3 linked regions of the Homo sapiens genome follow. The protein of the gene in region 3 interacts with the protein of the main gene of each other region in a pairwise test. Each region holds a gene or a part of one and is shown on either strand. Other genes may lie near its edges. The genes, in order: IFRD1, SPMIP2 and KLHL41.

Evidence for each region.
Region 1: the proteins of KLHL41 (region 3) and IFRD1 interact in a two-hybrid assay, tested with the Homo sapiens proteins (one study listed by BioGRID and IntAct).
Region 2: the proteins of KLHL41 (region 3) and SPMIP2 interact in binary tests that used the Homo sapiens proteins (3 or more experiments, as listed by UniProt).

Annotation. Positions count from the first base shown.
Region 1 is NC_000007.14:112,445,544-112,453,518, reverse strand, and holds the start of IFRD1 (interferon-related developmental regulator 1), read right to left. Parts: upstream 3,060-7,975; 5' UTR 3,033-3,059; coding exon of another isoform or gene 2,874-3,032; 5' UTR 2,831-2,873; coding exon 2,737-2,830; intron 1,462-2,736; exon of another isoform or gene 1,008-1,461; intron 1-1,007. Other genes in the region: uncharacterized LOC128031837, read right to left, coding at 2,874-3,032. UniProt on the Homo sapiens protein: Could play a role in regulating gene activity in the proliferative and/or differentiative pathways induced by NGF. May be an autocrine factor that attenuates or amplifies the initial ligand-induced signal.
Region 2 is NC_000004.12:158,892,548-158,899,255, forward strand, and holds the end of SPMIP2 (protein SPMIP2), read right to left. Parts: intron 3,319-6,708; coding exon of another isoform or gene 3,203-3,318; intron 1,171-3,202; coding exon 1,156-1,170; 3' UTR 587-1,155; downstream 1-586. Other genes in the region: FNIP2 (folliculin-interacting protein 2), read left to right, coding at 3,203-3,318.
Region 3 is NC_000002.12:169,512,659-169,519,770, reverse strand, and holds part of KLHL41 (kelch-like protein 41), read right to left. Parts: intron 5,198-7,112; coding exon 5,040-5,197; intron 4,918-5,039; coding exon 4,810-4,917; intron 1,582-4,809; coding exon 1,396-1,581; intron 1-1,395. UniProt on the Homo sapiens protein: Involved in skeletal muscle development and differentiation. Regulates proliferation and differentiation of myoblasts and plays a role in myofibril assembly by promoting lateral fusion of adjacent thin fibrils into mature, wide myofibrils.

The sequences.
Region 1 (7,975 bases), on a different chromosome or scaffold from region 3:
ACTCTGCTCCCTTAACTCATCAGTATTAATGATTTCTAAGATTCGAGGGAAAGAAAAAAAATACACATATATATGTATCAAGAAAAAGAACCCTGTATGAATGCCTGATATTTAGGTCAAACTCACCCACCCACACTGTGATCCTAAGTACCACGAAAGAGATGGCACTCTAGGCACATAAAGTACTTATTTCTAGAGGGCTTACTAACAAGGTTTTGTTCTTTCTTAAAAATATTCTCTTTAAATTAAGTGCTATGACATACCTGTATAAAAGAAGTCAATTTTATTAGCTTCCTAAAACTCTCCACTAACATAAAAAAAATAAAGAGTTTAAATAGAAAACTCATTAAAGTAATAATGACAATTTGGTTACATAGTGGAGACCTCATTTGAATCCCATTTCTTTTAGATGTCATTTAAAAATACTAGTTAGGTAAGTGGCTTGTTAAGTAAGCAAAAGTTTGTGTAATTTTCCATCTCTTCTACTCAACTATTATTTATTCATTGTTTATTAAACAAGTAAAACATTCACATAGGACCAAGTTAAAGTTTTAAAAAGTAAATCTCACCCCCATACCTTTCCCCAGCTCCACTTCTGAGGTAACCACAGTTAACAAGTTCTAGCACACACTTCCAAAGATATTCAAAGCATGTATTGTGTTATAAATTAATCAAAGAATTATTTTCCACTTGTTTACATATGCTAAAATTCAGTGATGAAATGGATCTTTTCTACTAAAATAGTGAAAAGGTAGCAGCAATAAAGCTGATGAAAGGTCACAAATGAGCCCTGAAGCAAAATTTAAAAGGCAATCCCCATACAGCCACCAGAGGCCTGTATAGGTACTATAAGCACAAAGAGGGAAGGAGGCTTGCCCAGAAACTTTAGACGGGATTAAAGGTTTGTGCGTGATCTAGGCCATTACTAACATCATTATAACTTTCAAACTTTAGCTTTCAAACTTTTCCATTTCATCAACAAAAGGGTAATAGAATAAAATAAATACCTTCTAGAAAGAATTCAAATGTTTGATTCAGATGAGGAAAAGCTGAAACACAGTGGTAAGAAATATCCTCAGACCAGGCACCGTCCCAGCATTGTGGGAGGCTTAGGCAGGAAGATCCCTGGGGACGAGGGACTCGTGACCAGCCTGGCCAACATAGACCTTGTCTCCACAAAAAATGTAAAAAATAGCCAGGAATGGTGTCACATGCCTGTAGTCCTAGCTACAGGAGGCTGAGGAGGGAGAGCTGCTTGAGCCCAGGAGTTAAGAGGTTGCAGTGAGCTATGATCACACCACACCGCACTCCAGCCTGGGCGACAGAGCCAGACTCCCTCTTTCCCTTAACAAAAAAAAAAAAAGTATCCTCAATTCACATAGAGCAACCAGAGGCCACAATAAATTACATATTTTACATCTTGATAAAGAATGAATTTCATCAACATGGAGAGCATTCAAAATAAAGAGGCACCTAAAAAATGTAAAAAATTGCTGTTTTAAGAATCCCTCCCTATGGTCAATTATTAAATGTTTAATACATGATCACGAGTTTTTGAGCTTTTTTAAATGCCAGTTTCCAATAACCTTTAACAACATAACCCCATATTTACTTTTCTTGTGAACAAAGGCATATCATTCTGAGTGGCAGCCGTGGCAGAGGGGCAACTGTGTCCAAAAATACCTGATGGCTAATAGTTCCAGTGTGATAACGTCGGAGAATACTCCAATATTTAACTCCTGTTTAAATTTCTAAATAAAATATTACCCAGGTTATTTAATACTCGATTTGAGTTTATTGGGGTCTCTCCTAGAAGGGCCTTCCAATTCCAATTGGAATCCTTTTTCTTAACCATATAATAAGTAGAAAACCATAAGTTCAGTTAAGCACCTACTCATCCCACCCAGGAAAAGTTTCAACTTCGTAGCGAGGGCACAATAACCTCAACTTTTAGCCAACTGCAACCTAAGCTCCTCACCACCCTGCCTCTCTGGGGCTCACTGCAGAGAACATATAGAATGCAGCACAAAGGAGAACGCGTTTCTTCCCCCCGTGAGCAGGAGGTCGCCTCGGGTGGTCGCAGAGGTGCTAGAGGTTCAGGGCTTCTGCAGGTGCCAGTTAGGGGAAGGAGCACAGCCTAGGGGGGAGAAAGTGGTCCCCCCGCCTCCGACGCCTTCGCCTGGCCAGGTGGACCTGCGAGACGGAAAGCTTCCCCAGCGCCTCTGCGTCACCCCGGGCCCACCGCGCAAGGCCCAGGCCGCGTGACGCAAGAGCCCGTCCAAACCCGCCGGACGTCTGGCATCCCAGGAGCTCCATGTTGGAGCCAGGGTGTCAAAGGCGGCCAGTGACGGCACGGGCTCAACTCCCCGTTCTTCCCCACCCGTGGTCGGGGAGAGATCGGGCGAGATCGCCGCCGAGAAAGGAACTCTGACAATGGTTCCTTTCCCGCCCAGCTCCCGGTCAGCCCCTGTCCCGACACACTCTCAGGCCCAAGGACCCGTTCCTCCCTGCCCCCACGGCCGGTGCCCAAGAGTCCGGTTCGCACGCCAGATCTAAATCGCGCGAGGAGCAGCGCCCAGGGCACGCTGGGAATTGTAGTTCAGTAGCCAAACCACGCACCCTGGAAATGCAAATGTGTACATCAGAGAAAGAACTACAACTCCCACCGTGCCGAAGCATGGAAGACTCGCCAGCCTGGCCGGCAACTGGGATGCCGGCGGCGGGGATACCCCTTACCTGCTGTCGCCGCCGTCGCTGCGGCTGCTCCTGACCCGCCGCCGCCAGCACTGCTACCGCGGTGGGGAGTGTTCCGCTTCTTGTTCTTCGGCATCGTGGGACGCCCGGTGCCGCCCAGAGTCGGAGCTTAGCGAGGATCAGCCGATGGAGCTGCACTTTTTACTCGTGCGTCTGTGCGGCGGGCGGCTGAGAGGCGAGTCTTCGGCTAACAACAGAGTCGAGAAGCGGCGGGGGTAAGAGTGGGCGGTGGCGGCAGCAGAAATCCCCGTGAAGAGCTGTGATCGAAAACGATACATGTTTCTCTCTAGCGCGGGAGCTAAGGCGGGGCAGGGGAGGCCACGACGCCTTAAGTAGCAATACCGCCACCTGACGTCACTCTGTGGGCGGGGCTTGAGCGCTTCCCAACCAATCCCTGCACACCTCCCCACTGGACGCCTCCGTCGGGCGGGGCGCGGATCCTACCTACAAATCCCATGCGGCCAGTCTTCCGTCCGCGCCCAGGGAGCCTGTCTTCGTGGCCTCACTGAATTCTGGGAAACGTAGTAAGGCTGGGGCCGGGGCCTCCTCCCAGCCGTCTCTTCCCAACGGGCTTTTCTGCCCACTTGCTTTTCTCCTGGTGACCCCACCCCTGCCTCGGCGCGCCCCCGCCTTGGAACTGGGTGAGGTAGGCACCGGCGATGCACAGTGGGGCGAGTATGCCCTATGACGAGAGTCGGCTTCCAGCTGGCAGCTATGCAATCACCTTTGCTTCTCTTTCTCCGGAGGCTGGTGTTCTCCTTAACCTTTCCCCTACTTCCCTGCGGCACCTGCCAGGCACGCAGCCTTACCTCTCCTGGGTAACATTTCCATGGTTTTAGTTTTAACTAGTTCCATGAACTACTTAAGCCATCATCAGTACTGTACCTGTAATTGGACCGTGGTTCAGGGTTATGTGCCCCCCATCCCCCCCCCCCCCCAAAAAAAGGGATGCTTTCGTCTACTTAGTTGTGGAGTTCGTGTATATCTCAGATTCTAGACTAGGAATATATGACGATTCAGCGTTGTGGGTTTCTATACAAGAATGTGTCCCTTGACAATACTACCTGCCAGTTCTGAGAATTTCACAGCTGGTAAAACAAACACAAGTTATACAGATCAATAATCGCAGTGCTGCCTTTTTTCTCAAGGCACTCCTAGATCTCTGTCTTCCTTGTTAGGACATTTGTCTAGTATTTAGAGCCTGTTATTAGGTTCATATACTATGCTTATGACAGATCAAAGTCCCTGACTCACCTCAATGTAGGTGAGTCATCCGCCACTCCACCTCTCAGCTGAGCTCTATTCTATTTTCAATTGCCTGTAGCAAATTTCCACCAGAATGTTCCACTTGTGCCTCAACCCAACATCTCTGAAACGAATACTATATTTCCTTCTTCCTGTCTTCCCTTTGTTCACTGTACTATTTATTATCCTCCCATATGTTAAATTCCAAAACTCAAATTCATAGTCTTTTTTCCCTTTGATGCACCACCCCCTCCCCACCCGCAAAGCAATTAGTTTTAAAATAGCACTCTTAAATTCCTGTCCTATTCTGTGATCACATGTGACCTCAGTTCATGCCTGGGCATTTTAAGCGATCTCCCAGTCTTTTCATCCATGTTTCATGCACAGTAATGCTGCCAGATTTATTTGTGTGTTCCCTATTTTACTAATCCACCTGCTTTAATAGTTGCTCAAAAACATTCCATGGCTCCCATGACTAACTTTAAATGCCAACCCTTTTAGCCTGGCCCTGACTCCCTTTCCAGCCTCATCTTTCACTGCTTCCTCATACAGTTCTTGTTCTTCAGCCAAACAGGACTGCTTTTCATTTCCAATACACGGCTCTCTTCTCCTACCTCCATTTCCTCATTCATATTCTTTCCTGTTCTTGTAATGCCTTTCCTCCCATCTTCACCTTAAGAAATTTTATCCACCGTTCAAGATGTAGCTCATGCTGCCACCTTCCTGAAGCCTCCAGCCAGAAGTTTCTTCCTCCTCACAACTCTTTGACACTCATCCTAATAATGCCCTAATGGCACTTATTACCTCCCCACACGGCCTACTCAAAGATGCTATTTAATGGGCAACATTTCAGGGTTGCTTTTACTTTGTTTAATCCTGAAGCAGCCAGTAAACTGCACAGAGCACAGAAACCAAATACGGAGGCAGGTTGTGGGGGAGGAAGCAGCTCACACTGACTCCTTGTATCTAGAGGCACACTGCAACTCAGTGACAGGGCCTATACAGAATGAGATGTCTCACAGAATTGTAGACTCAATAACTTTTATAACCCTAGGCTCTTCACCATCCAGAAACAATTTATACTATACATAAGGCAACAGTTTTGCCACTCTGGAGTCACATCACCTAGGCCTAACATCCAGGTTCCAGCCCTGGAAACGTGTGCTTTGCATTTGGGGCAGGGGCTTTTTTTCCAAATCCCTTCACATCCACTTAGTCGTTCTGCGGCAGGCCTGGCCATGGCCCACCACATCATATACGTACTTGTTTTACATTTATTTGTGAATACATCTGTCATCTCATGAAATTATCAGCTTCCCAAGAACAAAAATCTTTTCCTCTTTTTAATTTCTTTTCTTTTTTTCTTACTTTTCTTTCTTTTTTTTTTTTTTTTAAATCTACAGGCCCAGGAACTTGAAAAAATCTTGCTGTATCCCTCATGGCACAAAAGGAAGTGTTACATTTGAAATTGAAATTATAGTCAGTATATATATAGTTAAATGAACATTTAAGAAATAATTGTTGACTAGATTTTTCTGGATCAAGGAAAGGGAGAAACTTATGTATCACTACATACATACATTCTGGATCAAGGAAAGGGAGAAACTACTTATCACTACAAACATGAAGTACAGCCTTCAGTATAATGAATTCTGAGAGATACTGTACTTTTGATAAAATTACCTTACTATAGTTTTATGCCTGCAGTTTAGCTCCAGACCAGTGCAAACATCACAAAGATGTAGCCCACCTCCTCATGGGACAGTGGTCTTCAGCTCCACATACTATTTTGCAATATGTTTAAAGAAATTAGAAGACTCCAAACATCAAGTCACTAAATGATTACAAATACCAGAAAGGAAGGGGAAGCACGAAAGGGAACAGGAAAAAGGGCTTTCTCCAGACTTTGCCTTTTTCTTCAGGAAAGACCACACTCCCTAGAAACTTCCACCTACATGTTGACCAGAACTGTGTCACAGGATGATCCCTAGCTGCAAGGAAGTTTAGAACACAAGTATTTTCGGTTGGGCTCATTCGCAAACAAAATTGAGGTTCTGTTGTTAAGAATGAAGGGGAAACCATGGATATAAGGTAGACAAATAGCAATGTCTGCCTCATATATCAGGAGGCAAAATACTCTCATGCTCTAATAAATAAATATCACATATTTGTTACCAACATGACATTATGTGCTGCCTCAACATTTAAGTCATTGTAAAATATATTCTTCTTTTACAAAACAACTTAGTTTAACATTCCATGGAACAGAAATCACCATCAGGGTAAGTATACTCAAATGTTGCAAAAATAAATCTTACATTAATCAGAATTTAGGGGCACGCCTGAGAAGAGTTCTAAGTTCTCATTGATGACTTTGATTCAAGAACAAGTAATAAAGATAAGATTCAGTATTCATACCTTCCTTGAAGGCATAAACATGAAAGGTTTTCTTTGAATGACTTTAGTCATGGCCTCCTTGGGATTCTCTGCATAGCACTGAGCAGAAATAATACCTCCCAGATCCTCCATGTAGGGCTTGTCGGAATCTGTTTCTTGCCTGTATCTCCCAAATCACTTCTCTCATCACCTAACACAGTCCCTTTCCTAATGCCATATCAAACTCTTAGCAGGTCTCTGAGCTCACCACTCTCAAGCTTCCAGGCCTTACCTAGGTTTGGCACATACCTCTCTCTCCATATTGCATCTCCTGCCCCTCTTTTCATCCACTGCATTTCAGCCACACTGGTCTTTGCCAACTTAAAAACACAAAGTTCATTCCCCACTTAAGACTTGCAACAGCTCCTCCCTCTGCCTGATATGATCAACCCGAGCTTCCCACACTTGCCATTCAGATCTGAGCTTAAATGACACCTACCTGAAGAGGCCTTCCTACTCTCCCACTCTTCCACTCTCCATTCTAAGGTCGCATCCTCACCCCACCTACCACCAGCACCTCCACCCTGCTTATATTCTCCCAAAGTACATCGCACTACTTAATATTTTTTGGCCCAATTATTTTTTGTCTCTTCTACTAGAATGTTAGAATTACAAGAAAGAGATCCTGTCTGTTTTATTCACTATTGTATCTTCAGTACTGGAACAGTACGTGGCACTTAGATATTCAATTATTTTTTACTGAATGTTTACACCACTCCTGAGAAGAATAAGCGTAAGCGAAAGAAGGTGAAGCTGGCTGTCCTGAAATACTGTAAGGTGGATGAGAATGGCAAAATAAGTCGCCTTCATCTAGAGTGCTCTTCAGATGAATGTGGTACTGGAGCGTTTATGGCCAGCCACTTTGACAGACATTATTGTGACAAATGTCTCATTGCTTCAGCAAACCAGAAGACAATTAATTGTGTATGAGTTAATAAAAGACATGAACTAACAAAACACATTTACTGAATGAATAAATGTATTAATAATTAAATGTCACTCCTCTGCCTAGAACATCCTTCCCCACGATCTCCCCATCATCCTTTAAGTTACTGATCCTCGGTCACTAATCCTGGGCCCCCCAAATTGTCTGATTTAAATGTCTTTCTTTTTTGTTCTTGCAGTGCCTTCTTTAGACTAGCATTAATTATATGTATTGTAGGGTTTTTTTACTTCTTTTTTTTTAATATGTATTGTAGTTCTTGATTACTTGTCTGTTTTCCCCTCAGACATGAGATACAAGCTACATGCTACTTGTGGGCAAAGCCCAGTTTTGTCACTTCTGAAACACACATGTAGCACCTTTGTGCAAATTAGAAACAGAACACCAAGTCTGATGAGTGTTTATGGGCTGGAATCCAGTCACCAATCTCTCTTCAGCAGGGAACAACCTATACATCTGTACATAGTGGCCCAGTAGACAATAACTGTGTTTTTAATTGAATGAGGGAGTCAATTTCCTCTGTATTTTAGCAGTTTTCTTAAAAGCAAAGGAACTAATGTGGGGAAAAGGATGAGGCTAACATTTATTGCAAGTCCA
Region 2 (6,708 bases), on a different chromosome or scaffold from region 3:
AGAAAGAGAAAATACATTTAGAGAGGGAGGGGGAAAGGTTTCAAAAGAAGAAAAGCTTTTCCAGTGGTGATGAACACTTAAAAAGAGAGAGAGAAGCTTAAGGGCATATGGCATATAGCTGGGTAGAGCTTGGATGGGCTGACCTCAGAGACAGGTGTGTGAGGAAAGAGTCTGCTTTCTCTGCTGTTCCCTCCTGTCTGCACAGCGCTGTTCTCTGCAGCACAGCCCCAAACCAAAACATCTGTTATCTGCTTCCTGGCCTCCAAAAATGATGCAAACCTGTTTACCCAACAAAGCAGGAAGTTTTTAAATATTAATTACCTACGCTAATTGCTAATGTAATGGTCATTGTCCTGGGTTTTTATGACCAAATCTATACTTGTACCCATTCCTCAAAAAGAGTCTAGACTTTTATGACTTTGAAGAAGGTGCTCTGAAATACCGTCTGGTTGTTATCAAAGTCGGGACAGTGTGGCAAGGCAGGAAGACCACTGAGCGTAGCTGGGTTATGGTCTAGGCTTTGCCGTTGGTTAGTTGTGTAACAATGGACAATCCCGAGTCTCTCCGAACCTCAGCTTTCTTAGTTGTAAAAGAAAGATAGTACCTGTTCAACAAGGGTGCTGTGAGAATCTTCTGAAAATTAGGGATATAACTGCTTTTTACTGCTAAAGCACCATGCCAATATTATAAAATACTTTAAAAGCCATATATGTTAGCTTTAGAGCCCCATAACCTGGGGTCAAATCCAAGTTCTGCTACTTCCTAACCATGTACTCTTTCAAAGCCTTAATTTCCTTATCTGCAAAGCTGGGGAAATAATAGAACCTATCTCCTATGGTTATGAAATTATATTAGAGAATGAATGTAAAGCACTTGGAATAGTGTTAGATGTTATAAGCACTCAGTAAACAGCTACTATTAGTATGATAGTCAATAACAATTAGTTTCATGAAACAATATTAATGGTTGCAAAGACTGACAACACCTTTTTTCCAAACTGTTTATTTGGGCTTTAAGCTGAAGCGTACTCTTGCAAGACATCTGTCCTGGGGCAATATGAGAAGCACTTGTGGATTATTATGATCTTATTTTTTGTTATACAGTAGTAGGCAGTTTCTCCTTCTAAAAGCAGGTTGAGTTATGCTGATTTAGAGGTTAATGTTTCCTTTTCTGTAAGAGAAGTAATGTATATTAGACTTCATAGTTTACTTCATAAGTATTTGCCAAACTTTTATATTTCATTCTATAATACATACGTCTTGTCACAGTTGATATCTTGGTTATCAAAGCAATAAATTGTTATAGTTAATTCTTTTTACTTCCTTTGGACAGAAGTGTGTTCAAGCACTTACTAGTGTGAATGACTTATTTAACCTGACAAAACCAAGATCAAAGAAAATTTTATCTGCAGTTTAAAATTCTCCTTAAAAAAAATCACTTGAATGAAACCTGTGATTAAATGGCTTTTAGAACCTTCAATACAAAAAGAGAAGGTAGCTATTTGAAATTTTAGAAGTTAAAAATTGGAGAAATCCATCTCAGGAATAAAATCCCAGAAAGAGGAGTTTAAAAAGCCCCCAGCATGGTTCAATGGAATAATCAAGTCTTTTAAAAAATGTTTTCTTTTTTTTTTTTTTTTTTGAGACAGAGTTTCATTTTGTCACCCAGGTTATAGTGCAGTAGTATGATGTTGGCTCACTGCAGCCTTGACCTCCTAGGCTCAAGCAATCCTCCCACCTCAGCCTCCTGATTAGCTAGGACTACAGGTGTGTGGGCCACTATGCCCAGGTAATTTTTTAATTTTTGTAGAGACAGAGGCTCACTATGTTGCCTAGGTTGGTCTTGAACTCCTGGGCTCAAGTGATCCTCCTACCTCAGCCTCCCAAAGTGCTAGGATTACATGCGTGAGCCACTATGACTGGCTAAAAGTTGTCTAAATGCTTTGATTTCACGTCTAGTATATATTTCATATAGACCACAGTTCTTATTTCCACACTGCATCATACAGTTTTCATATAGGCTGTGAACACTGTAATTACTTTTTCCAAACAGAAAGGGTTCAATGTAATATGAATATTATTTTTAATATTTTGTGACTCTTACTAAAAATTTTCTATTTCACTCCATAAGGAACTGAAAGCTAATAAAGATCCTTTTACCACCTTGTTTACTTGGAGGAGCATTTCCATGAGAATTGGTGAAATCCTCCTTACTTTATTACTCTTAGTCACTTAGCAGTTGTGTTTCATCCACCTGACACAATGTATTTAAGATTTTAAACCAATGAAAAACTGAAAAGATTGCATCTCTGATAGATATTTTTTCCATGTCGTTGATCAGCCCAGATGGTCAAGATCAACATTTTCAAATGCATCTGTTAATCTTTTTACCTTGAAAATAACAGGCCTAATGGTCTAGAAGAAAATTAGGTATGATGGAATTACCCTTGCCAAAGCCATCAGGTGTCTTACTGAAGATGCTCGGGTATCTGCCTGCCAAATGCAAAAGCATTTGCCTCTGGTGAAAGACACAGATGGTTGCTATTCTCTAAAAAAATGAAGCTGAACACTATTCCAAGGGTAAAGATGTCCTGAAAATAATTGCCTTTTCTTTATTGTTATTAAAGACCTAGTTAAAATACATTCTTGAAAGCAAAAGAAAAAAAAGTTGTGGGGGAGGTTCAAAATGACCTGTTCCCGTCAGTCTCCTCTGGAAATGTACTGGGCCAGAATAATCTGAGCTATTGGGGGAAAAAAACAAAAACCATACTGTTTACTAAATTATTTATAACAAAAATGCAATTTGCTATGTGGTTACGTGTAAATTCACATTCTCAATATTGTTTAGCTATAAAAATTATATCAAGAAGTTCTTAATATGGGAAAGGATTATTATAAAGTTTTTTAAAGGCAAGAAACACTTTTGGAATGATTTCAACTATGAAAAAAATACTTGTTTAAAAAGACTAGAATAATACATATGTAAATCTTAATAGTTAGCAAAAGTAAACTTTGTTTTACAAGAACCTATTCTTATACCTGGTAGTGGTAGGGTTTGAGATGGCTTGTGATTTTTTAAGTGTATTTGAAACTGATGAGATAAAAGCTGTGTAGTTAGAAATGAATTAAGAAAATTCTGACTCTTAAAATATTGGCAGAGATTTGACTTCTAGCCCTCATTGTGAATGTTCTTGGCTTTGCAGTGCATCATGCATCTTGAAGATAGACTACAGGAGATGTACCTTAAAAGTAAAATGCTATCTGAATATCTCCGGGGACACACACGAGTCCATGTGAAAGAATTAGGTGTCGTACTGGGGTGAGTTCTGTGAAGTGCCGTCACTTGTCCCTTTGATAGGTATCCCTAGCATTGTACCCACTAACGTGTTTAGCCTGTGTCACCCTAAACCTCAGGCCCTGGTAACCCATCAAAGTATGTGGAGTCCATCAGATACGTGCCTCTGCAACTCCCCAATGAACAGCATGTTCCGTTATCTGATACTGGGTTTCACACCTACAATCAATCGCAGGACTTTAGGCTGGTCGTGCTTTGTTGCTCTTCTCTGTGGATTATCTTATGCTTGAAAAGAAAATTTAATCCCACACTGCCCGTTTCTAGTAACTGAATAAGATGCTGAAGTCACAAGCTGTGGGACATGCAGCAGCAGCTTGTGTTTACATTTCACTTCCTGGAGGAGGAGTAGGTTGGCACATTCCACCTGGTGGCAGGAAAGGCCCTTCTAGGCTTGAGGAGCCTGCCTGCGTGTCTGTGGGGGGACAGTGCTTTCCTTCCTTTATTATAAGCCCACCAAAGAGGAGACTTGTATGTTACTAAAAATGCCTATCATCCTCCAGAGGGTATTTGCTATAACTTCTCTAGGGGAAGTAATTCTTACTTCTGTTTTACTGTCAGCTTGATTTTTCAAAAGAGAACAAAAAGACATTGTACATTTGGGGAACTGCCCCCGCTTATCCATGATGATGATTCCCCTCACTTGGGAGAAGAAAATATTTATAATGTCGACGTTTAAATTATCTAAGCCTCCTAAGAGACTGGGGCCTTTGTGTTTTGCTTAGATTTCTCATCTTTCACACCCAGAATGTGACGCCTGTGTTGTTCGGCTCTTGGCATTTCCTGTCATAGATTATTCTTACATACTTTATTTACAAAGTATTTCCCCCTTATGAGGTGTTTGCTTTTGCAGTTAACTTGCAACATGTCTCTTTGTCGTTTTTTTTTTTTGCTTTTGTTTATATCTCTCTACCAGCCTCATACTTCAATCCTGCCTTATTAGTTTTTTTTTTATTATTATTATACTTTTAAGTTCTGGGATACATGTGCAAAACGTGCAGGTCTGTTACATAGGTATACACGTGCCATGGTGGTTTGCTGCACCCATCAACCCGTCATCTACATTAGGTACTTCTCCTAATGCTATCCCACCCCCAGCCCCCCACCCGCCAAATAGGCCCCGGTGTGTGATGTTCCCCTTCCTGTGTGTGTTGTCATTGTTCAACTCCCACGTATGAGGGAGCACATGCGGTGTTTGGTTTTCTGTTCCTGTGTTAGTTTGATGAGAATGATGGTTTCCAGCCTCATCCGTGTCCCTGCAGAGGACATGAACTCATCCTTTTTATGGTTGCATAGTATTCCATGGTGTATATGTGCCACATTTTCTTTATCCAGTCTATCATTGATGGGCATTTCGGTTGGTTCCAAGTCTTTGCTATTGTGAATACTGCTTCAGTAAACATACATGTGCGTGTGTCTTTATAGTAGAATGATTTATAATCCTTTGGGTATATACCCAGTAATGGGATGGCTGGGTCAGATGGTATTTCTAGTTCTAGATCCTTGAGGAATCGCCACACTGTTTTCCACAGTGATTGAACTAATTTAGACTCCCATCAACAGTGTAAAAGTGTTCCTATTTCTCCACATCCTCTCAAGCATTTGTTTTTTCCTGACTTTTTAGTGATTGCCGTTCTAACTGGTGTGAGATGGTATCTCATTGTGGTTTTGATTTGCATTTCTCTGATGACCAGTGATGATGAGCTTTTTTTCATATGTTTGTTGGCTGCATAAATGTCTTCTTTTGAGAAGTGTCTGTTCATATCCTTCACCCACTTTTTGATGGGGTTGTTTTTTTCTTGTAAATTTGTTTAAGTTCTTTGTAGATTCTGGATATTAGCCCTTTATCAGATGGGAAGATGGCAAAAATTTTCTCCCATTCTGTAAGTTGCCTGCTCACTCTGATGATAGTTTATTTTGCTGTGAAGAAACTCTTTAGTTTAATTAGATCCCATTTGTCAATTTTGGCTTTTGTTACCATTGCTTTTGGTGTTTTAGTCATGAAGTCTTTGCCCATGCCTATGCCTGAATGGTATTGCCTAGGTTTTCTTCTAGGGTTTTTATGGTTTTAGGTCTTACATTTAAGTCTTTAATCCATCTTGAGTTAATTTTTGTAAAAGGTGTAATGAAGGGTTCCAGTTTCAGTTTTCTGCATATGGCTAGCCAGTTTTCCCAACACCATTTATTAAATAGGGAATCCTTTCCCCACTGCTTGTTTTTGTCAGGTTTGTCAAAGATCAGATGGTTGTAGATGTGTGGTGGTATTTCTGAGGCCTCAGTTCTGTTCCATTGGTCTGTATATCTGTTTTGGTACCAATACCGTGCTGTTTTGGTTACCGTAGCCTTGTTGTATAGTTTGAAGGCAGGTAGCATGATGCCTCCAGCTTTGTTCTTTTTGCTTAGGATTGCCTTGGCTATGCAGGCTCTTTTTTGGTTCCATATGAAATTTAAAATAGTTTTTTCCAGTTCTGTGAAGAACATCCATGGGAGCTTGATGGGGATAGCATTGCATCTATAAATTACTTTGGGGAGTATGGCCATTTTCACAATATTGATTCTTCCTATCCATGAGCATGGAATGTTCTTCCATTTATTTGTGTCCTCTCTTATTTCCTTGAGCAGTGGTTTGCAGTTCTCCTTGAAGAGGTCCTTCACATCTCTTGTAAGTTATATTACTAGGTATTTTATTCTCTTTGTAGCAATTGTGAATAGGAGTTCACTTGTGATTTGGCTCTCTGTCTGTTATTGGTGTATAGGAACGCATGTGATTTTTGCACATTGATTTTGTATCCTGAGACTTTGCTGAAGTTGCTTATCAGCTTAAGGAGATTTTGGGCTGAAATGTTGGGGTTTTCCAAATATACAATCATGTCATCTGCAAACAGAGACAATTTGACTTCCTCTCTTCCTATTTGAATACGCTTTATTTCTTTCTCTTGCATGATTGTCCTGGCCAGAACTTCCAATACTATGTTGAATAGTTGAATAGGAGTGGTGAGAGAGAGCATCCTTGTCTTGTGCTGGTTTCCAAAGGGAATTCTTCCAGTTTTTGCCCATTCAGTATGATATTGGCTGTGGGTTTGTCAGAAATAGCTCTTATTATTTTGGGATACGTTCCCTCAATACCTAGTTTATTGAGAGTTTATAGCTTGAAGTGGTGTTGAGTTTTGTCGAAGGCCTTTTCTGCATCTATTGAGATGAGATAATCATCTGGTTTTTGTCACTGGTTTTGTTTATGCGATGGATTACCTTTATTGATTTGTGTATGTTGAACCAGTCTTGCATCCCAGGGATGAAGCCAGCTGGATCGTGGTGGATAAGCTTTTTGATGTGCTGCTGGATTCAGTTTGCCAGTGT
Region 3 (7,112 bases):
AATACAAAAAATTAGCCGATTTTTTTCTAATTATAAAAATAATATATGTACATTATAGAAAATCTGTACTCCAGCCTGTGTGACACAGTGAGACCCTGTCTCAAAAAAAAAAAAAAAAAGTTTGAGAAAATCTGGAAAGTACAGAAAGGTATACAAGAGAGCAGATATCTCCATAATCATACCTTACAGACATAATCACAAGCAACAATTTGGTGTAATTTTGTCATCTTTTTAAAAAGCATGTACATTTAAGCTTCCATACATATAAATGAAACTAAGAAGATATTTACAATTTTTGTGTGTTGCTTCTTAACTTACATCATGAGTGTTTACCCACATTACAGTCTTCGAAAACATTATTTTTAATGATAATTTAAATAGTGTTCCACAAAAGTTCCTTGTAATTTTCAGATACTAAAGTCTGTTTTGTAGTCAGGCATACATGTTTCTAAAAAAAGTAATAATATTTCTCTTTTTTCTTCATTGCTAAACTAGGAATATAAAAGGTACATACTCATCCAGATGTGTGAGCTCAAAAATTTTAAAAAGACCAATTTTATATGAAGAATAGCTGTCAAATATCTTTTCACATTAAGTCAATAAAAGCTTAAAAATGAAATTTTTAATAAAATTATAAACAGCGTAAAGGAATGAAAACTTGGGAAGCATTCATACTTTACAGATATCAATCATTAACAAGTTAAGTGAAGATCTTTTCATAAAGAAACTACATTTAAAATCAAATGATTCCACAGAGACATGTATATCCATCTACACAGACAATTATTCAGGGCCAGGTGTGCTGGCTCACACCTATAATCCTAGCACTTTGGGAGGCCACCGTGAGAGGATCATTTGAGGCCAGGAGTTAGAGACCAGTATGGACAACATAGTGAGACCCTGTCTGTACCAAAAACAAAAACAAAAACAAAAATTAGCTGGGCATAGTGGTAGTCCTAGCTACTCAGGAGCCTGAGGTGAGAGGATCACCTGAGCCCAGGAGTTTGAGGCAGCAGTGAGCTATGATTGTGCCACTGCACTCCAGCCTGGGTGACAGAGCCAGACCTTGTCTCTTAAAAATAATCATAATTATTCACAAGTATTACCTTTGCATTTCTAAATTCACAAAGTTAATAACAAGGACAAATAGAGCATGACAACACTGACTTAAGGGTCATGTGTTCCAGATTACAGACATATAATGCATCAGAATGTTAGACAAGATTTACATCCAGTAACAACAAAAGAAACCCAGATGAAAATACTTCCTTTGTAATCTGTGGCTCTGTACCCTCCCCTCCCCACATCCTAATTAGAAAGATAACTTTTTATCCAAAGTTAACAATTAAAATGTATAGTTGTTCACATGCTATATACTAAGATGTGGCAACTCACTTATTTGTTGTAAGGTCAAAAGCTTCAACTGAAGCTGAAAGACCATCTTCAGTGACACCTCCTGCAATCACAATTTTGCCTTTATGGACTGCTACTCCAAACATGGAACGAGGAATTTTCATTGGAGCCAGATCTTTCCAATCTCCTTTTTTGGGGTTGAAGATAAACACCCTGTTTGTACATTTTCTGTAAACAGAAAAACAAATGTTCCTTTTAGAACCTTTTTTTGACAGCACCTTCACTAATAATTTGGCTTTGCTTGTCATGAAAAATATATAGTAGGATCAGAAAACTCCAAAGAATTCTTAATTTGAACATATGCCACTAAACAAAGGACAAGCCCAAATGTGGGGACCAAAACTATAACTTAATTTTACTGTTGGAAGATAGGGTACCTTTACTTCTGGATAGCTGCTTAGAACCCCAGGCACAGCTGATTTTAATCGTATCTACTAAATTCAATTGAAGTTTTTTTACTCTATTTGAGTAAAAAATAAAATCATAAACCTTTTATTGCACCTCAATAACAAATGGTAAGTTTATTTATTATCTGAATATCCTAGGAACGAATCAGTTAACTTAAAGAATAATTAGGTGCAAATATACCTACTTTAAATTTTATATGATAGATCATTTTATTTTATATTAGCACTAACATACCAGTGCATTTTAAGAAATCTGGGACTATGGATTAGACAACAAATCATCTGAGCTGATGAATCATGACAACAGTTTTACATGCTAAATGCTACCAGAAAGACCTGGACTCATCTGAATTATTATTCACTCTGCCACCCAGGCTGGAGTGCAGTGGTGCGATCTTGGCTCACCGCAACCTCCGCATCCAGGGCTCAAGTGATCCTCCCATCTCAACTTCCCAGGTAGCTGGGAACACAGGCATGTGCCATCACACCCAGCTAGTTTTTTGTATGCTTGGTAGAGACAGGGTTTCGCCATGTTGGCCAGGCTGGTCTCGAATTCCTGAGCTCAAGTGATCCTCCAGCCTCAGCCTCCCAAAGTGCTGGGATTACAGGTGTGAGCCACCATGCCCCGCCCTTAGTATGTTTTTTATGGTTCCTTGAAGTTATCTATAATTTGATGGGAGTTCAGAATTTCAAATAATAATTGATTAACTGGATATATTTGGTGATGAAAAACACCTTAACTTTTTTGTGAGGACAATTTTTTTCTTAATTGTGTAAAAGACCAGTTATCTGGAGTAGAAGCATTTCCTCTAATATTTGACTATTGGTATCATTTGAACACTTCTTGATAAGAACATTATCCAAAATCACGTTCTTCAAATTCATTAGTGGGAACTGGTGCAATTCAGCACTTACTTTTATTTATTTATTTATTTCTGGAGACGGAGTTTCGCTCTTGTTGCCCAGGCTGGAGTGCAGTGGCGCGATATCAGCTCACTGTCTCCCGGGTTCAAGTGATTCTCCTGCCTCAGCCTCCCTAGTAGCTGGGATTACAGGCAAACGGCACCACGCCCGGTTAATTTTGTATTTTTAGTAGAGACGGGGTTTCTCCACGTTGGACAGGCTGGTCTCAAATTCCCGACCTCAGGTGATCCACCTGCCTCGGTCTCCCAAAGTGCTGGGATTACAGGCATGAGCCACTGCACCCAGCCCAGCACTTACTTTTAGATAATGACTCATTTCAAAGTTCTTGACTTTGACATTTGTCAAGCAGTGTTGTGTTAGTTAATCATATTCTCAAGATTGATATATTCCTACTGACAAGAACTGTATGCTTCTTACTGACATATCAATTTCCTAGTTACTAATGCTGCTTGAAGGAAACAATTTAAATCATTTGGCAGGGTTCCTGTGTTTCCAAAGTCAGAATGCTCTTTAGTAGTGATTTTCCATTCAGTTTACTCAGGAAAAATGCCCAAAATAAGATCTGGCACCAGGTAAGCATATAATATACCTTCCTTTAAATTTGATAGGAATAGCTGGGATTAGGGAGGATATAAAAATTTTAGAATATGTTATCTTTGAATACAGGTAGATGTTTAAAAACCATTGCTTTTTAAAATCGCCTTTTCTGTGCTATATTTACCATTTAAATTGACTAATACCCAATAATCATTAACTCCAGAATAGAGTTCTTGACATCTAACACATTTCTATATTTTACTCTCCTTTCCTGCTTTGCCCTTACAATTCTAAATTTTGGCTCCCTTTTCAGGGTTGGACATCACTATTAATTCAATGGCCTGGGCAAATGATGACAAGCCAAATCAGGCAGATTTTTCAGGGGCAGAATATTAGTTCTCACCATCTAAACTGAAAATGCTTATTTTACTAGACAGGTTATACTGGTTTGACTGTCTCTGAAGCATTCGGAGCTCACTTCTCCTCTCTCTGGGTTATAACATCTCTTTCCTGATTACAGGTTCCTTAAGAATTGACTGGAAATCAAGTTAGGTTTATATATGAAACCTCATCCTGGTTTTCTCACAAGATACTGGGTGCTACTGGGAGCTCAGTTTTGAACAGTTGGAAGCCATTTTGAATATTACCTCTGTCAGGGAGTAAATATGTGGAAGAACACTGCTGAGGAAATAATTGCCTTAATTTTTTGTTTTTATTTTGTCTTTTTTACTTCCCTCTTTTCAATCACCACGCTTTTCTTTCAAACTGACCTATCTAAAGTCCCTCTTATGAATGTAAAGTACAAATCCATGATATTTTTTATGCACAGTTGTCTTAGAAGATATATTTTAAATACTACATTAAAGATACCTTTCAATTTTTATCTACTTATGGCTAAATGAATAAGAAAACCCATTGGTTTTAATGTAGTAAAATACAATTATAAATCAGTGAAATACAGGACTTGATTATGCTCCTAGATACTGCCTGGACTGTAAGGATGCTTATGATTGGGGTATTAGGCTCATTCCTAGCAGTATGCTGAGTATCTACATGTTTACTTCAGCGACTTGAAATTTTAAGATTTTCCCTCCACAATATGATAGGTGAGAACCATGTCCCATTTTAGTGTGCAGATCCAAAGGAAAAGAGGAAGAGACCGGGCGTGGTGGCTCACACCTATAATCCTAGCACTTTGGGAGGCTGAAGCGGGCAGATCACCTGAGGTCGGGAGTTCAAGACCAGCCTGACCAACATGGAGAAACCCTGTCTCTACTAAAAATACAAAATTAGCCAGGCGTGGTGGAGCATGCCTGTAATCCCAGCTACTCAGGAGGCTGAGACAGGAGAATCGCTTGAACCCAGGAGGCGGCGGTTGCAGTGAGCCGAGATCACACCACTGCACTCCAGCCTGGGCAACAAGAGTGAAGCTCCATCTCAAAAAAAAAAAAAAAGAAAAGAAAAGAGGAAGAAACCCTTCTAATAAAAAGTCATTTAGACATAAATCATGAGAGTTCAGGGTACTTACTTGTCATCTGTCTTTCCTCCTAGACAATATATCATCCCTTTATGTGAAATCACATTATGGCCATAGACTTTGATAGGGAGTTTTTTTACTTCGTTCCATTTTGCAGCCCTAAAATTAAACGAGACAGAATTTATATACCTTCAGTAAATTCCAGGTTCTGAAAATATGAATATGTTGTAGGCACGCATATACTTGAATGCTTAGGGAACAGGAATATCATGCCAACTTACACAGGATCATAGCATAATACTGAATCCAGCGAAGCCTCTGTTTGAAGGTCTTTGCCTGCAACTACATAGATTTTATCATCCACCTCTCCCAGACCGAAGAGACACCTGGCTGAAGGCAGAGGTGGAAGTCCAACCCATTCAGATGCTATGCTATCGAGCTGAAAAAAACATATATGAGAGATTGTGGAGCCTGTTAGAAAAAAATTAGAAGTACACCAAAAAAAGTTATACTTTATATGTTGTTTAGAAGTCATCGAGATAGTCAAATATCTCACAAGTAAATAAAACTACAACCCCAAAGTATCACATTGTAGCTCATAATTACCAAGAAGAATGAGTAAATCTACTTGGCCTACCAGATAAAGATATCAAAATCTTCAAGGCTTCAAGAAAAGAAAAAATAAAATAGAATCACCAGAGGTTAATTACAACTGTGAGGTTTCTTGTCAAATTTTCTCCCATATTGCCTTGTTCAGCTTTGAAACAGGAGATCCTCATACTTTTAGGACACTGGGGAAAGAAAGGTTGTCATAACAAGGAGGGTCACAGAATGTGAATGACCCCTGCGTGCTATATTTAACATGCTCCCCATGCCGGCAGCTGGGACAGCTGGACCTGTCACTCAGTCCACAAACAACTGGGATGTTGGGCAATATCTTTTTTTCTTTCTTTAAAAACATTTTAGGTTCTCTGTGTTTTGCTTTATTATTCCTGATACAGGCAGGCGTTAAAGTGAATTTCCTAGTGTGTTGTTGGGAGTCCCTTGAAATACTCTTCTCTTTTTTAAAAAATTTATATTAATAAGTAACTGCTCATTTTTGGTCACCACCACTTCTGCAAGCTTAAGATTTTCCCAAGGAGGAAAATCTCCTTGTGCCCATGCCCTGGGGTAGATGATGGTGGCATCTGTTTCATCACTTACTTTTGGTAATTTAAATATTTTACACTTTTCATTTTAGCACACTAAGGCACAAGAAAACTGTTTTCTGCAAGAGTACAGTTGCAGATTTGTTGTTCTCTCTGGTACCACTTCTAGATTGCAAAAATAAAATGAATAAAACCCAGTTTCACTGGATACTAAGAATAGATGTGCATACAAATGGCTGTGGTATAGACAGGGGTGTCTGTGGAAGCCTATCTATATGTGGTCTAGTAACCTCAGTTAAACAAAGCGCTAATTAAGACTAGATGACATGAGAAGTTTAATCTCCACATGTGCATTCTTAGCTTTGCATTCACTAATTTCAACAGCTAGATTTTGATCCCTTATGTTTTCACTTTTGAAAGAAATTCTTTGATCATGAAGGTGGTATGTAATATAGTAGAAATAATAATGAACATTTATGGGGTTTTGACTGTTGTCATAGTCTTTGAACTAAATGCTTTACACAGGTAACCTCATTTAGTTCTCCAGGATAGGCATTTCTATCATCCCCATTTTACAGATGAGGAAACCGAGGCACAGGAAGATTAAATAATTTTCCCAAATACACAGAACTTTTAGGTGATATTCAAATCCAAGCCATGTACATTCACAGTTGGTTTTAAAAAATGGAAACAGCAGCCATCATAATCCCATACCTGTGGGCTTAACTCTCATACTGTACAGTACTGCCTACCTTCCCATATTACCTGTTAGAGGGCACTTTCTCTAGCAGATGGAACAGTAGACTACCTACCAGTCTCTTTTATAGAGGAACTATCAAGCTATTTAACTTCTCTGAGTTCAACTTTCCTCATTGTTAAAATTAGGGTTTGGACCTAGATTACTTTAAGACCTGTTCAAAGATTTGATGAATCTATTAATTCAAATTAATGAGTGGGGGAAAAAATCCTCCCTTACCAAGGTAAAAAATTCTCATAATCTATTTACAGCATACAATCAAAGGTCAAATTACTCCTAAATTAATGCATTTTAAATAGATGTGACCAAGCAGAAAAATATAAAACCTGAAATTCTCATGTAAATATTGTCTGATGAGTCACAACCCTCTTTTATGGTGAAGTGTTTTTATCCTGGCATACCGTTCTATTAGTGCCTTTTAAAAGCAGCAAGGCATTTGCTTTGCTGAC